Regions from separate parts of the Homo sapiens genome. Here all the other regions are linked to region 3. The links come from fine-mapping of genetic effects on gene expression. A gene starts in region 3. Each other region holds a variant in brackets. All regions are shown on one strand. Distances are between the middles of the regions.

Evidence for each region.
Region 1: its variant is fine-mapped to the expression of NINJ2 in whole blood (INTERVAL, PIP 0.96).
Region 2: its variant is fine-mapped to the expression of NINJ2 in whole blood (TOPMed, PIP 0.94).

What each region holds. Positions count from the first base shown.
Region 1 is chr12:584,965-590,189 of GRCh38, reverse strand. All of the region lies in intron 1 of NINJ2 (ninjurin 2), which reads left to right. LOC105369595 (a long non-coding RNA gene) reads left to right here and starts at 3,704. Exons shown (of 2, transcript NR_134624.1): 1 at 3,704-3,942; 2 at 4,192-4,492. It also overlaps the pseudogene RNU7-103P. The variant A/G (reference allele first, on the strand shown) is at 2,234.
Region 2 is chr12:623,411-628,635 of GRCh38, reverse strand. All of the region lies in intron 1 of NINJ2 (ninjurin 2), which reads left to right. Among named protein-coding and RNA genes, the nearest start is that of NINJ2-AS1, 4.9 kb to the left of the region's middle. RefSeq lists enhancers at 4,179-4,922, 4,923-5,225. The variant A/G (reference allele first, on the strand shown) is at 2,298.
Region 3 is chr12:661,092-666,316 of GRCh38, reverse strand. It overlaps NINJ2 (ninjurin 2), which reads left to right and starts at 2,872. Exons shown (of 4, transcript NM_016533.6): 1 at 2,872-2,989. The coding sequence starts at 2,957.

The DNA.
Region 1 (5,225 bases), 76 kb after region 3:
CAGGAGGACCACTTGTTTGGGACCAGGATTCCAGACCAGCCTGTGCAATATAGCAAGACACCGTCTCTACAGAAAATAACGAAAATAAAAAATAAGACGCTGCTCTAAGGATGCCACTGGCTGCGGATAACCTTCCTACTGCTCCCTGCTGCCCTCAGGACAAAGCCTAAGTGCCTCATCAGCCCCTCCCTGATCCGCTGCCCCACACCGCTCCACCTCTGCCTTCCACCTGTACCCTAGGACCCCTTGGGTCCTGACAGGGAGACCCCGCCCTCTCTGAGACGGCTGCCACAGCAGCCCATCTGCCTCACCCCACGGAGGAAAACTGAGTCCAGGAGACAATCCCCCCCTAAATTTACCAACTGTTTCCCCCCTTCCAGAAGTTTCTTGAGAGCAGGAGCCATATGGATTCGTCTCTGCATGCCCAGCCTGAGACATCAGTGCCTAGGACTCAGGAGGCATACCCAGCACATGCTTGTAGAAGAAAGAAAGAAACAGGGAAGGTGTTTTTTGCTATTTATCGCATATTTAATTTCATCTTTATTATATTTTTCCTGATTGTAACAGGATGATGTCTTAGGTGTGAAAAATTAGAAGTGGAAGTGTTAGAGCTCTTCTAGAATTTGTCTAGCAGGTTCTCTGGTTTTTACTGAAACCAAACTCCCATGAGAAAACAACCTACAATTGGGAAAATACATAACTTAGAAAGAAAGGGAAAGTCTTTAGTGTGATAGAAATTCCTCCCATATCTGTTTCCTGTGCTTATTCTAATGCATTGAAATATAAAGTAGATCCTCTGAATACTTTGTTTCATTTTTACCAATATAGAATCATATCATGTTCTTACTGACTTGCTCCCCACTAAATACATTTTAGATATCTTCTGTATCTAATCATAGGGATCTACCTCATTCTTTTTGTTTTGTTTCATTTTGTCCATTGTTTTTTACTGATTGAACAAGAACACCTCTCTCTTTTCAAAGACACATGTAGTATTTAATTGTGTGGTTGTAGGCCAGCTTATTTAGCCCACACACCCTTGATTACAATTTGGCTCATTCCCAGTTTTTGACATTATCAATAATGATGCATGGAATAGCTTGTCTTTTTGAGCTTTGGGGAGCATTTTCTGTGGGAGACTTATTCTGTGGGAGACTCCTAGAAGTGGACTTACTAGGTAAGACTATTTTAAATTTTAATAGATAATTGTCAGATTGTCCTCCAAAAAAAAATGATTGTAACAATTCTGGTACGTTTGGTAGTAATTTACATTTCTACCAAGGACGTGAAAGTGCTTGCTTAGCCATGTCTTCACCAACACTGAGTATTATCAGTCTCTTAAGTCTTCGCCAATCATGTAGGCTATCATATCTATTACACAGATTTGTGATGTTTCTTCAGGGGCTTGCTTGTTTGTACTCAGTTTTTCTGTTGGCTCATTTTTAAGGCCTCCACAGACTTCAGGATAATCAGTCCTTTGTGCTCTGTGCAGCAGTGTTCCCCCCGTTTCTCTTTGTCTCCTGATTTTGTGTGGTGTGTGGTGGTCGAGGAAATGGCTGGAGCACACACTCTGAAGGCAGGCTACTGGGTTTTGTCTGTAACTTACTGGCTGAATGACCATAGTTTAGTTACTTAACCTCAGAGTCCCTTAGATAAGGACAGTACTTATCCCAGGGATTGTTATGAGAATGACACGACTTCAGATATATAAAGTGTTCTGTGCAGGGTTTGACATGAAATGAGCGCTATAAGTGTATATGCTATTATTATTTTGCATTCAAATAATTTTAATTTTATGCAGTCAAATGTATTAATCCTTTATGGCTTCCGGATTTGATGTCATAGTTATAAAGGTTTTCCTCATTCTAAGATTAGAAAGAGATTCACAAAGGGGACTATTTGAAGGAGTCTGCGGGGAGTCCATTTGCAAGATGTCTCCTCCTCCCTTCCCTCCCTTCTGTCCCTTCCGTCCCCTCCGTCCCTTCCGTCCCCTCCGTCCCTTCCGTCCCTTCCGTCCCTTCCGTCCCTTCCCTTCCTTCCGCCATTTTGCTGTCTTGTAAATTGATTTGGCTTTTCACATAGTGGGAATTTTTTTCAAGGGGAAACCTATCTGTGTTTACATAGTGGAAGGATGATACACTGGTCTGGGGACTATGTTGGCTGTCGTGTCATGCCTAAAGTGTAGGCCTGTGTAGGTCGTCCCCTCCCTTCATGGATAAAACAACTACTAGTT[A/G]TCAGTAAGTGCCAGCCTCATACTACGGCTCCTACCCTGAAGGAGTTCACCGTCCAGTGAGAGAACGGATAGTGATCAGGTGAGAGGTGTCACCAAGGCCCTGTGGTGGAAATAACCAGCTTAATGGAAGGAAGAGCTTCCTGGGTGGACGGCGAGGAAGGGCCCAGAGGGCATTTCAAACACGGGGGATGGGGTGTTCAATCTGCTCTACAGATCCTGGTGACCTGCCTGTGAGGCGCAGGGTCCCTGGCCACCCCCACCCCCCACCTGCACAGAGGCCCCGGGGCAGGGAAGAATGGCTCAGCGCTGGGCAGGGTGAGATGGAGAGTGGTCAGAGGCCAGACCACAAGCATCGGGCCAAGACTAGGAAAGCCCAGCTCCCCTCCCAGCTGTAGAACTTCACTGGTCAGAGAGCCTGAGGAGCCCTAAGAAAGGGACTTCAGTCCTCTGGGGCTCCCTTTGCGTGTCCTTACAATGCAGCCTCAGCTTCTGTCCTTAGGCAGCTGTGCAAATTCTGTAAGATGGTGCATGTGCAGACATTCTGTCCTGCACAATAAAAGTGGACACCTTTGGGGCACTTCCTGCCGCCGCTTGACCGGGAGTTGCTCCCGCCATGGGGGCTGTGCTGTGGGTTCAGCCTGTCTGCATTGCCAGGGGTTCCTGGGCCTGCTTCCTGTGGAGGGGCAGCTTCACCCTGGATGCAGACCTCCCCGTTTGCAGCCCGTCCTGGTGAGCTGACTCTTGCCTCCTGGTCCCCTAGTCTTTTTGTTGACCCAGATCAGGACTCTAGTCCAATACTATTGAACCCTGGCAGAGATGCTCCACAGGAAGGGCTGAGCCTCCTCCTCCCACAGGTGTTTAGTAGCAAGAAAAGAAACTGTGCTTGGGGAGCCTACGCTTTCCCTTTGGCCTTGTTTATCCCAGATATTGGTATGAACCCCTCTTGGCACTGGCAGGGGTTCTACCATCTGCTCACACTAAGGGTTAAAGGCCTGCAGAGGGGACAGTGAGCTCTTCCATCCAAACTTCAACTCCATTCCACAATACCAGAGCCCAGTGAATGGCGTCCCCCGTGGGCAACAGTGATTCTCATGGGAGCAGGGCCCCGAAGGTGAAGGTCACTGCAGAGGGATCCCCACACCTGGATCCCTACGATCCAGTCAGAGGGCACAGAAAGGCACCTGGCTGTTGGGGAAAGGACCCTGGTGGGAGTCACAGAAGCCTTTGTCCCAGTTTCAGCACTGCCCAGTTCTGTTGCCTTGGAGAGGTCCCTTGCCCCGATGGTTCTGTGTCCTGATTTGTAAAACGGGAAGGTTGGACATAGGGCCGAAACGCATGCCCTGTGGGCGGATGGGAGCTTATGCACTTTGAGGTTGGATGCCTTTGAGTGGGCGTGCGCTGCCCAGGGAGAAGCAGCTCCCACCCCTTCCTCCAGTGAAGGCGTTGGCCTTTGTATTTTGCGCTGTTCCCTGGTCCTGGCTTTTGAGAAAAGAGCCAGCAGCCTCTGGTCTTGTTGACACCATCATCTGAGAGTGGCAGGCCACCAGAGGGAAGGGCTAAGGACAGAGCCAGATCTGGCTGGGCCATCTCACCTTCTGGAGGCCGAACTTGACCCGGGATGGAAATAATGAAGCAGCCACTGGCTTTCCCAAGGCCTGTGATCCTCCTGGTCACCAGAAATCCCAAGTTCTTATCTCCTGCTCTTCCAGGTAGGCTGGGCCAGCTTCCCAGGATCTGCTCAGGAGGGCCCTGTGCTGAGAAGGGTCCTGCATTTGGTCTAATTCTCTGCTTTTGCCATCTTGAAATTCCGAGTCTTTTTTTCTTTTTTCCTGTTTTAGACTTCATTCCTGAGGCTCACCCTTAATCAACTTGAACGAGGGGCCCCATATGTTCCTTTTTACTGGGCCATGCAAATTACTGTGGGTTACATTAATGCTCATCTGGAAACCTTTTACCAGTCTCCTCTGTTAGGGTACTGGTTCCCAGCGCAGAGCTTCTGTGATTACCAGAAGAACACTGAAGGAGTCTTCTTGTCTGTCTGGAGCCAGCTGAGATGGCCCTGAGATCCACAGAGCCTCCTCCACGCCCCTGGATGGAGGCGCTCCTGCTCTTCCACCCTTTGTATCTCTCACTTGGCACCCATTCCCGTAATTAATCACAAACTCCGTCTGAGCTATTCCTTTCTAAGCCATGCCCTCTGTACTCTGACTTGCCCCAAATAGACAGATGCTCAATAAATATTTGCTGATTGGCTGGAAAGCAAACAGAGCTATCATCTCAGCACAGAGTTCAGGACATTGCACACAGTGGGTGCTTAATCGATGCTGCTGACTCATCCGCAGAGCAGGCCAGGGTGCAACACAGCGTGACCGTGCCTGTGCTCAGCCTCCCTTCCCTCCAACCGTTCCCTTCCCTTCCCTCCAACCGTTCCCTTCCCTTCCCTCCAACCGTTCCCTTCCCTTCCCTCCAACCGTTCCCTTCCTCCAACCGTTGCCTGCCTGATGAGGATAGGACTGACACTGAAATCCTGGGTGGTGCTGTTGAATCGTGGGGCTTCCTGGTGTGGGATTGTCCCCGGCGAACCTACTCTTTCCCTTTGGCCTCGTTTATTCCGGAAGTTGGTATGGACCCCTCTTGGCATGGGCAGTTCTACCATCTGCTCACGCTAAGGGTTAAGAGCTTGCAGCAGGGAAGCCCAGAGCCCCCAGAGCCCAGTGAATGGCGGGGAGAGAACCGCTGGCGGCAGGTGAAGGTCACTGCAGAGACAGCCTCCATTTCATGGCGGTGGAAATGCAGCCTTAGCGAAAAGAAGGATTTGCTTTTATTTATGTGTTTATTGAGACGGAGTCTCGCTCTGTCTCCCAGGCTGGAGCGCAGTGGCGCGATCTCAGCCCACTTCAACCTCCGCCTCCCCGGTTCAAGTGATTCTCCTGCCTCAGCCTCCCAAGTAGGTGGGACTACAGGGGCCCGCCACCACGCCCAGCTAATTTTC
Region 2 (5,225 bases), 38 kb after region 3:
CCTAACCTCCTGGGAATGCCACCTAGCAGGTCTCAGCCTCATTTTACCAGCCCCTATTCAAGATGGAGTCATTCTGGTTCGAATGCCTCTGCCATAGACACGTATTATATATGCATTACCATGCTTATGTTTTTTGCTTTCCCTGTCTGTAAAATGAGGAAATGCTATTAACTGTTATGTTGGTCACTCTGTACCAGAAAAGCCAGGAAGAGTGTCCACTGTGTGCCAGACCCTTGTAGGTGACGCTGTGAGGAGACGCAGAAGAACGGAAAGACCTGGCTCCTTCCTATGTACTCTGAGATCTCTATGAGGAGGCTTCCCCCTTCCCCTCTAGGAAGACTCCTCATAGAGATCTCAGAGTACATACGAAGGGGAAACATCCACACCCAGTTTTCCCTGGTGGAAAGGTGTGACACAGAGGCCTGCCAGAGGCTCATGGCCCCTTCTCCACCCAGAGCAGCATCTCAGCTCAACCTGGGGATCCAGTAAAGCGGTGCAGGGATCCTGCAGGCTCTGGCAAACTCAGCCTTGACCTTTGGATCCAGCTCTCTGTCCCCATGGCCAGTCTTTTCACTCCCAGGCCTTCTGTCTGGCACAGGGTGTGAAAGAGGAGCCGGGGGCAGGGCGGGGAGGATGCGGCAGGGACAGGGACAGGACAGGAAGGACTTGGCCTAGCTGATTGAGACTTTTTTTTTCTTTTTGAGACGGAGTCTCGCTCTATCGCTCAGGCTGGAGTGCAGTGGCCCAATTTCAGCTCACTGCAACCTCCACTTCCCGGGTTCTCCTGCCTCAGGCACGCAAGTAGCTGGGATTACAGGCATGCACCACTGTGCCCAGGGATTACAGGCATGCGCCACTGTGCCCAGCTCCAGTTGAGATTTTGGCAGGGGTCTCTTGAGCAGCTGATGGGCTCCTGTCACTGCGCCCAAAGTCTGTCCCAGGCGAGTCTGGTTCCACTTAAGCCCAGGTCTGGGCACAGAGGTGCCACCCTTAATGTGTGTGCAGTATGCTGCAGCTGTACCCACGAAGTCTGCCCCTGCCTCTCATGAACACCCAACCCATTCGAGGCTCCAATAATTAGAATTTTCCTTGCTTCACTTTATCCATCTAAATCCTATCGAACTTGTCAAGGGCTACGTCAGTCTCACCTCCTCCATGAAGCCTTCTCTGATTGCCCAGCTGACATCAGTCTTACTGTCCTAAGTTTCCTAGTTCTCTATTTCATTCATTTAGAAATTAGAAAGTAGAAATGTACTTAATTATATTCTCAAAAAATATTTGAGCACCTGTTTGATTGCAAGGCAGGGAGGGTGGCTGTTGGGGCATCCATGAAAATACAGGACAGAATCTTCTAACAAGAAGCTTCAATTCTAAAAGGATGATAAAAATTCTAAAGGCATGGCCTAGAAAATTCCTTATTGCCATATATTGCTTTTCAGGTTGGATGCTATGATTTAATTCAAAAATAATAGTTAACAGTTATTAGGTGCTTGCTATGGGCCATTACTGTATTTAGCACTTTACACAAATTATTCTATTGAATTTTTTTTTGAGATGGGGTCTGGCTCTGTCACCCAGGCCGGTGTTCAGTGGTACAATCATAGCTCACTGCAACCTCGAACTCCTAGGCTCAGACAACCTTTCCGTCTCAGCCTTTTGAGTAGCTGTAACTGCAGGCATGTCTTACCACACCTGCGTACTCTTTTAATTTTTGTAGAGACAGGATCTCACTATGCTGCCCGGGCTGGTCTTGAACTCCTGGGCTCAAGCAATCCTCCCGCCTCAACCTCTCAAAGTGCTGGGATTATAGGCGCAAGCTACAGCACCAAGCTAAGTTATTTTATTTAACTCTTAATAGTACCCCATTTGGTAGATACTATTATTATTATTATTCCTACTTTAGAGATAAGGAAACTAAGGTGCAGAAAGGTTGACTGCCTCGTGTCAGCTAGTGAGAAAGCCAGGATTTGAACCAGGCACCCTGACTCCATTGTTTATACCCTTAACTACAGTGCCATATTTCTTCTGTGTTTCACCTTTTATGTTCAGCTAGAGTGAAACTCTTTTAAGTCCTGGAGGGCCCTGTGGCACTTAGTGCATCAATGCCTTTGTAGGTAGCAGGCACTGGTAGGAGGCAGTCAGTATTCAGGGATGCCTTGATGATCAGGCCCTGCGGTAGAGAGAAGAAGAGAATGTCCAAAGTTTCTTAGTTCTGGGCAATAGAATTGGGAAAAGCAACCAGGAGTCCAGCGCCTAAATATTGCTGTATACTAACTCTTAGCTCCCACTACCTCCTC[A/G]CTAACGCAGCTCTTTTTTCAGGCCTACACCAAGGTTCCCGTGAATGTAGCCAGCAGATATTAGGAGGGCTTCTTATGAATCCCTCATCACTGGGTGGACACAGGCCCATTAGGAACAGGCCCAGAGGCCTAGTGACTTCAGATTAATGCTTGCCAGGACCAGTGAGGTCAAAACATTACCCAGAACTGGGGCTTGATGTCCTGTCTCAAGGACAAACTCATCCCATCCTATCTGCCAAGTTATAGTGATTGTACTTCTGAGAACAGGGAACACTTCAGGCAAGAAAAATGTCAGTCCTCATTCAAAGGGAATGATTCTCCTAAATTTAATGAAACTCTTACAGCCTAATCCCTCACCGATCATGATATCTGTTTATTTCATATTCATTGATCATCTACTTGGTACAAGAAGCTGTGGCTTCCTACCCATAAAGGAGGTGATTCCAGTTTTAGACACACGTATCTACAAGATGAGTCATAGGATAATGATTATCCTATCAACCATTTATTAAAAATTGCTTATCCGTTCCCTCTATGCTAATAAGTGTTTTGATAGACTCTATCTCATTTAATCTTTAAAACAAATCTGGATATAATTATTCCACATGGTGGACCAAGCTCTGAGAAGGTACTTTATAGTAGACTCTGCCCCTAACAACTATATTGTCTTTCTGTACCGTCCATGAGAGGTCCAGACAGTGAGGACCATAGAGAACGGAGGCCAAGGTCCCTTTTGGCTTAGTTGACCAGAAGTAGCTTGCTGGAAAAGGCTCCTGTAGATGTTCCCTCTTCTAATACCCCTACCCAATGCTTTCTTTTTCTTCAACGTAGCCTCCAGAGAACTCCCAAATTAATTTTTCTAGGATACAGCTATGATCACCATGAACTCTACTCAAAAACCTTCAGTGATTCCCCTGAAATTCCCAAACTACTCTTCAGCCTGAAATGCAAGGTCTCGACTTCACCTTGGCTTTCTGACCTTCTCTCTGTCTACTCCCTCTCCCTATGTTCTTGCCAAATAGAACTATTTGCTAGTCTGCATGTAGGTCCACCTGCTGCTTCCAAGGCTCTTGGCATACCATTCCTACCACCTAGATGCCTTTTCCTCATCTTTGTCTCTCCAACTCTTACCCATCCTTCAGAGTCCAGCTTAAATATCACTTGCTAATGATAGTTACTAAGCTAGGGCAAATATATCTATATATCTATATATATATCTTTTTTTTTTTTTTTTTTGAGATGAAGTCTCTCTCTTGTTGCCCAGGCAGGAGTGCAGTGGCACGATCACTGCAACCTCCACCTCCCAGGTTCAAGCAATTCTCATTACTCAGCCTCCCAAGTAGCCGGGATTATAGGTGCTCACGACCATGCCAGGATGATATTTGTATTTTTAGTAAAGACGGGGTTTCACCATGTTGGCCAGGCTGGTCTCGAACTCCTTACCTCAGGTGATCCACCCACCTCGGCCTCCCAAAGTGCTGGGATTACAGGCGTGAGCCACCGCGCCCAGCCATCTTTTTTTTTTTTTTTGAGATGGAGTCTCACTCTGTCTCCCAGGTTGGAGTGCAGTGGCGCAATCTCGGCTCACTGCAACCTCCATCTCCTGGGTTCAAGCAATTCTCCTGCCTCAGCCTCCCAAGTTGCTGAGATTACAGGCACATGCCACCACGCCTGGCTAATTGTTTGTATTTTTAGTAGAGACAGGGTTTCACCATGTTGGCCAGGCTGGTCTTGAACTGCTGACCTCAGGTCATCTACCTCCTCTGCTTCCCAAAGTGCTGGGATTACAAGTGTGAGCCACTGTGCCCGGCCATATATATTTTTTATACCATGTGTTGTGGCTTATTTGTATGTCATTTCCTCTACTAGACGGCAAGCTCCTTGAAAGTGAATCCAGATCTCATTCATTCATACATTTTCCCGTATTCCAGTATCCTGGTATATCTTTGTATTTTTCTGTATCCCCATACACTAGTATCCTAACCCAGTTAGAGCTCCATAAATATCTATTGGATAAATTGATTTTTAAAATCAAAGAATAAAATACATAAGCAGAAGGATTGGCCTTCCCTGCCAATCTTCCTTTGAAGTGCTCATACCTTTACACATAGGTTTGGAGTCCTACAAAGCTCAGATAGGATTGAACCCAGTGGGGTAACATTGTAGAGAACAATGAGTCATTTGCATAGTAGGTTGTAGAGTAAGAGGATGGGACGTAGAGTTCAGGGTGAGGGTAGAGGAAGGGCTGTAATAGCAATGAATTTCATTCTTTGTTTTTTGTTTTTGTTTTTGTTTTTGTTTTTGAGACAGAGTCTCGCTCTGTCACCAAGGCTGGAATGCAGTGGTGTGATCACAGCTCACTGCAGCCTTGACCTCCTGAGCTCAAGCGATCCTCCTACCTCTGCCTTCTGAGCAGCTGGGACTACAGGCGTGTGCACAACCACACCTAGCTACTTTTAAAATTTTTTGTAGAGACAGGGTCTCACTGTGTTGCCCAGTCTGGTCTTGAACTCCTGGGCTCAAGCGATCCTTCTGCCTCAGCCTCCCAGAGTACTGGGATTGCAGGCATGAGCCACCATGCCCAGCCTCACTCTTTGAAATATTGCCCAACATCCTGGTATTTGAATTCACCTCCCTTGCCTGGTGCAAATTGTGGCACCTCAGCCAAACCTAGCAGCCTGGTCTGTCACTAATAAACCCCAGATCCCTTCCTAGCCTGTCGCCTCTCACTCATCCCAGGGTACATGCTGGTTGCAAACTAAGCCCAAGAGTGGATTTGGACGCAAGTTGGTAAATAACAACTAGGCTTTTAGATTCGGAGTTTGGATGATGAGAAAAGTGAAGTTTTGAGTGGGTGGGAAGAAACCTTCCCTGATTTTGGCTGGTACATTCAGAGACTCACAGCACTAACAGACAGGGCAGGCTGCC
Region 3 (5,225 bases):
TTTACTTCCAAATGATGCTTATGAGATGGGGAAAGGTCCAAATCCAGAAAGATCTTGCCAAACCAAAACCATTATTATAACCAATTACAGCTGTTTCCTTTTCAAACCAATGTGCTTATTAATAGGAAATTTTTTGAAATATATTCGAGTACTTTTCTCTTTTGCATTTTTTTGTTCCTGTTTCCCTCTATTCAGCCAGATGTATCCATATTATTTAAAAGATAATGAGGATTTTCACAACAGGAGTGCAAAGAGAAATAAATAGTTAATATTTTGCTTCTGGCATCCGAAATAAGGTTTTCCAGAAAGTTTTTTTTTTTTTTTAAGACATGGTCTTGCTTTGTCAACTCAGGCTGGAGTACAGTGTCATGATCATAGCTCACTGCAGCCTTCAGCTCCCAGGCTCAAGCAATCCTCCCACCTCAGCCTCCCAAGTACCTGGGACTACAGGTGCTGCAAGCTGCCACATCTAGCTAAATTAAAAAAAAATTTTTTTTTTGTAGAGACAGGATCTCACTGTGTTTCCCAGGCTGGTCTTGAACCCCTGGGCTCAAGTGACCTCCTGCCTCTACTTCCCACAATGCTGGGATTACAGGTGTGAGCCACCATGTCCAGCCAAAAAGTTCTTCTACAGATGGGATCTCACTATGTTGCTCAAGCTGGTCTTGAACTCCTGGGCTCAAGAGATCCTCCGGCTTTGGCCTCCCGAAGTGCTGGGATCACAGGTATGAGCCATGCTGCCCAGCCAAGACAATATTTTTGACAACCAGGTTTTCTTGAGAGAGAGGATTTTCTAAATTTCTTCATTTCCCTTTGAATTGTTGTCATAGAGTTCTACATCAGATACATCCCAGCCAAACAGGAAAAAAAAAAAAAAAAAGAAGACAAAGCGTACATTTTCTGATTCTAGATTAAGGGGACTATGGGAAGAAGTAATCTCAGCTACTCGGGAGGCTGAGGCAGGAGAATCGTTTGAACCCAGGAGGCAGAAGTTGCAGTGAGCCGAGATGGCGCCACTGCACTCCAGCTTGTGCAACAGAGCGAGACTCCATCTCAAAAAAAAAAAAGTGCTTAGAATAGTGCTTGATACATAGTGGTATTATTATGAGCGGTGGGGTGATAGATATTACTGGTAGACTTTTTAAGGAGTGCTGAGAAGAGTGGGTTCCAGGTCTCATTTCCATTCAGGAATGTGGAAGGAGATCACCTCGCAGACTGCCCTGTGTCAGTTGGAGCAGCCACATCAGAGCAAACTCTGCTGGAAGTGGGGCTGAGCTTGCCTTTCCCCTGCCCTTCGTCAGCAGCCCTCAGTCCCCATGTGCCTAAGGGGGCTCAGGAGCACTGGTCAAGCATCTCACAGGAAAATTTCGAGGGGCTTATCTTAGAGATGTGGGCCACTGAGCGGATACAGTGGGATGGGGGCACATACAAGTCAAAGCCAGGTCTCAGGATGGTCCACATTGCCACGAGCCAAGGTAGCGCAGACAGCAAGGGAGAACACTGGATCTCAAAGGCAGAAAGAGAATCACCCATGAGTGACTCTGGCCTAATATCAGACATCAGCCACCAAGGCCAGCAGAAGACCCAGGAGCAGGACCTGTGTCTCCTCAGCAGTCAGCAATTCGGGCGGGCCCGTGGGCCCAGCAGCTCCAGAACAGAAAGGAGCCGAGATGGAGAGGCCACAGGATAGATGCAAGAACCGTCCCCACCCCGCCCTCCTGTGCACCTAGGTGCCATCTTCTGCAAATCCGAAAGACTGAGCATTGTGTCTAAAGTGGACTGTTTACCATTTAAATGATTAAATCCAACTATGCTTCATAGATTAGACTAAAATATGGCCCCCATCCAATCATCCAACCCTCCCTCGCACCACTGTCCAGAGGGATGGGAACTTATAAAGGCATTTCATAGAACTGAAGAAATCGCCTTTTTTTTTTTTTACATTTGAATGTGGTGAGGGTAAACGTGTTGACTCTGCCTGTCTTCCTCCTGCCCGCACCTCTTCAAGCCCTGAATTGGATTACAGGTTAACACCCTGCCATGCACGTCTACAGACATACCCACACCCACACCTGCACAAGCTTGTGTCTAAACCTTGCTTCAGGAACAAGCCAGAAGAGTTTTGGGCTCTAAGGTAAACAGGAGAGGAAAAAAAAAACTTTCTAAAAAAAGACTCCCTCCTGGTAATTTTATTTTAAAAGTAGGGAGAATACCACTGTTTGCATAAACAAGCTTCGAAGGTACAACTACTCCCTGCTCCCTCTATGGCTAATCAAGGGAGGAGTTGAAGGAATCAAACAATCCGTCAGTAAAAACGTATTGTTCACTCACTTTGCAGAACAAAGCCTATGCTTTGGAGCCTATTAGGTAAACTACAATTTTTTTAAAAACTTTTAGGGATATAGGGAACAAAGCAAAGAACAACGGAAATCCCTCTGCCTCAGTATTGAGACTGTGCTGGAGGTCACTCCACCCGTGGCGACTGGGGACTGGACCCAGCGGTGAAGTCAGATAGCGTTGTCCTCAGGCTGTTTTTCAATTTGCTTGATAAACATGCAGGATTTCTTTGCCAGTCATAAAGCTACTAGCTCAAAGCAGGCTGGGTGACCTCAGATGGCTCCGCTGGGACTGGAAGGTCACTGGAGCCACTGGTGAAAATGATGCTGTCACTACCAACTCAAAAGGTCACCTATCAGTGTGCCATGTGCCACCTCCTGGAGCACACACATGTGCACACACATACACTCACACGTGTGTGCAGGTGCACACCTCCCCCAGAGGCTGCAGCCAAGACGGGCATCCCACATCAGAGGGATGAATGGCAGGTCTGTCCCGCCAGCTGTGTGCTCTCTCCCACCCGAAGAAAGCAGCAGAGACTCAGACGGCGGAGCCTGGAGGAGCCCACGCAGTCTGTTCCCGGCACCCGGTGCGTGTGAAGGGACTTGAGGGCAGCGAGATGGAATCAGCAAGAGAAAACATCGACCTTCAAGTAAGTTCTCTCTGGAAGAGAGCAGAGGGGAGACCGGGAGTAGAGGTGAAGCTGGAAGAACAGAGGATTGATACTTTAGTCACTTGATATTCTCCCTCCCCGTTCTCTTCTTACTCACTCCCTTCTCCAAATGCTCCCTAGGCTTTGTCTCTTTATTTTCTCTTTCTCTCTGTTTCCCTATCTGGTTCTTCACTTGTTTTGAAATATCTGAAAAACAGATTGGTTAACTCCCTTTTGGCCTCTGCTTCCTCTTGTCAGTCAAAGAGCTAATTAGATCCGTATTACCAGAAAATGATTTCACATTCTGAGCAGTGCTTTCCCCAAACCCCAGGACAGTAGAGACTTCTCTTAGAGCTGCCGGGGAGACAGGAAATATATGAGTTTTGAGGCTAGGAAGAGAGGCAGCTGGCCAACTTTGCATTTTACAGGTTGGAAAAAACTTGAGCCGTTTCTCGGCTGTCTTCACAAAGCTCTACTGTGTAGGACAGAAAGCGTCTCATTTGGACAGTGCAAGGAAAGGAAATCAGTCTAATCTCCTAGGAAGAGGCAGAGATGTGTGTCCCTCTGTAGCTGGGATGGGCTTGGAAGGCATCAGAGGTTCCAGTCCACTGCTGGAGGGGAAAGGGTGGGATGTTACGGTGAGAGGAGAGCCAGATTGCTGGGAGCTGCACTCTGTGACTCCTTGCCAATGGATAGAATAGAACGAACCCTTCTATGACCACTGCTGAGGCTGTGTAACATTGCAGAGAATCAAACAAAGTGTGGAAAAGGACTTTTGAGATCAAGAATTTCTGATCCCTGAACCTGGTCCTCGAACAAAATCTTAAGCAGCCACCCAATATACACTTCGGATTAAAGAAGAGCTGTTTTGTTGAAGCAGAGTATGTGCACGCGTCTCTCTCTCTCTCTCTCTCTCTCGTTCTCTGTGTGTGTTTTGGGCAGGGTGGCGTGAGTCTGGCAGAGTCTCTGTCCTTGGCCCCTCCGCCCTTGAGACACCACCAGGGAACTGTAGGACTGCTTGGTGTGCTGTGTCAAAACCATTCACCTAGTACAACTGCATACCCAGTGCTGTTTTCCTGGATTGGCAGCCAGCCCCGAGAGCGGTCCCACCGCAAGGCTTGCTTGTCCCTCTGTCTGGAACCTTCTTTCCCTGGCTTATCTCCTGGCTGGCCCTTCCTAGTACATTCAGGTCTCAGCTCAAATGTTACTTCCCCCAGGAGCCCTCCCCTGACCAACCTCTTCACAGGATGCCTCCTCCCCAATTTGTCTTTATCATTTGTTTAATTTCTTTCATAGCACTGCTCACCACCTAAAGTTACACTGCTTATTTATTTAGTATGTATTGCCTGTCACTCTCACTAGGACACAAGATCTCTGAGGGCAGGGCCTCTCCTGTTTTATTCACTGCTGCAGCCCGAGTGCATGAGGCAACTCTTGGTACACGGTCATTGCTTTAGAAAACATTTGTTAAATGAATGAGTTGAGGAAGCCATGAGTTGGAGAGGCTCTGAGATAGGAATAAGGTCACCTAATTGGCCCAAGACCTCCAGTCCATGTCTTCTGTCCCTAGTATGTGTTTTCTTCTTACTTCTAGTTCTTGCCTCTATAAGATCCTTGGTTGTTAAGGAAATTGTGTTGCTGCTTATTTTCATTCTCAGAAGAGCAAGTTTCTTATGTGCTGATGGGTTGAACGATCCAGAGTTACAGGCTAAGGACTCTGCATCTGAACCAGAGGTTCAGAAGGAAAGAGGTGGTGGGAGGAAGGAGAAGGAAATGACTGGCTAGGCTGGATGAATGTCTCTCTCTAGCAGGTAACTGAGGTGTTAGTGTACCTTTCTCTTCATTTGTCATTCACTCTCTTCTAATATGCTATTTAATTCTTGTATCTTACATTTTCCTTTGCTCAGAAGGTTATCCATTATTTTCTACAATTTATTGTCCACCTTTGGCTGGGCACGGTGGCCTACGCCTGTAATCCTAGCATTTTGGAGGCTGAGGCAGGAGGATCACTTGAGCTCAAGAGCTAGAGATCAGCCTGGGCAACATAGCAAGACCCTATCTCTATTAAAAATTTAAAAGTAATTAGCTAGGCATGGTGGCATGCACCTGTAGTCCCCACTACTCGGGAGGCTGAGGTGGGAGGATTGTTTGAAGCCAGGAGTTCAAGGTTGCAGTGAGCTACAATCATGCCATTGCACTCCAGCCTGGGCGGCAGAGCCAGACCCTATCTCTAAAA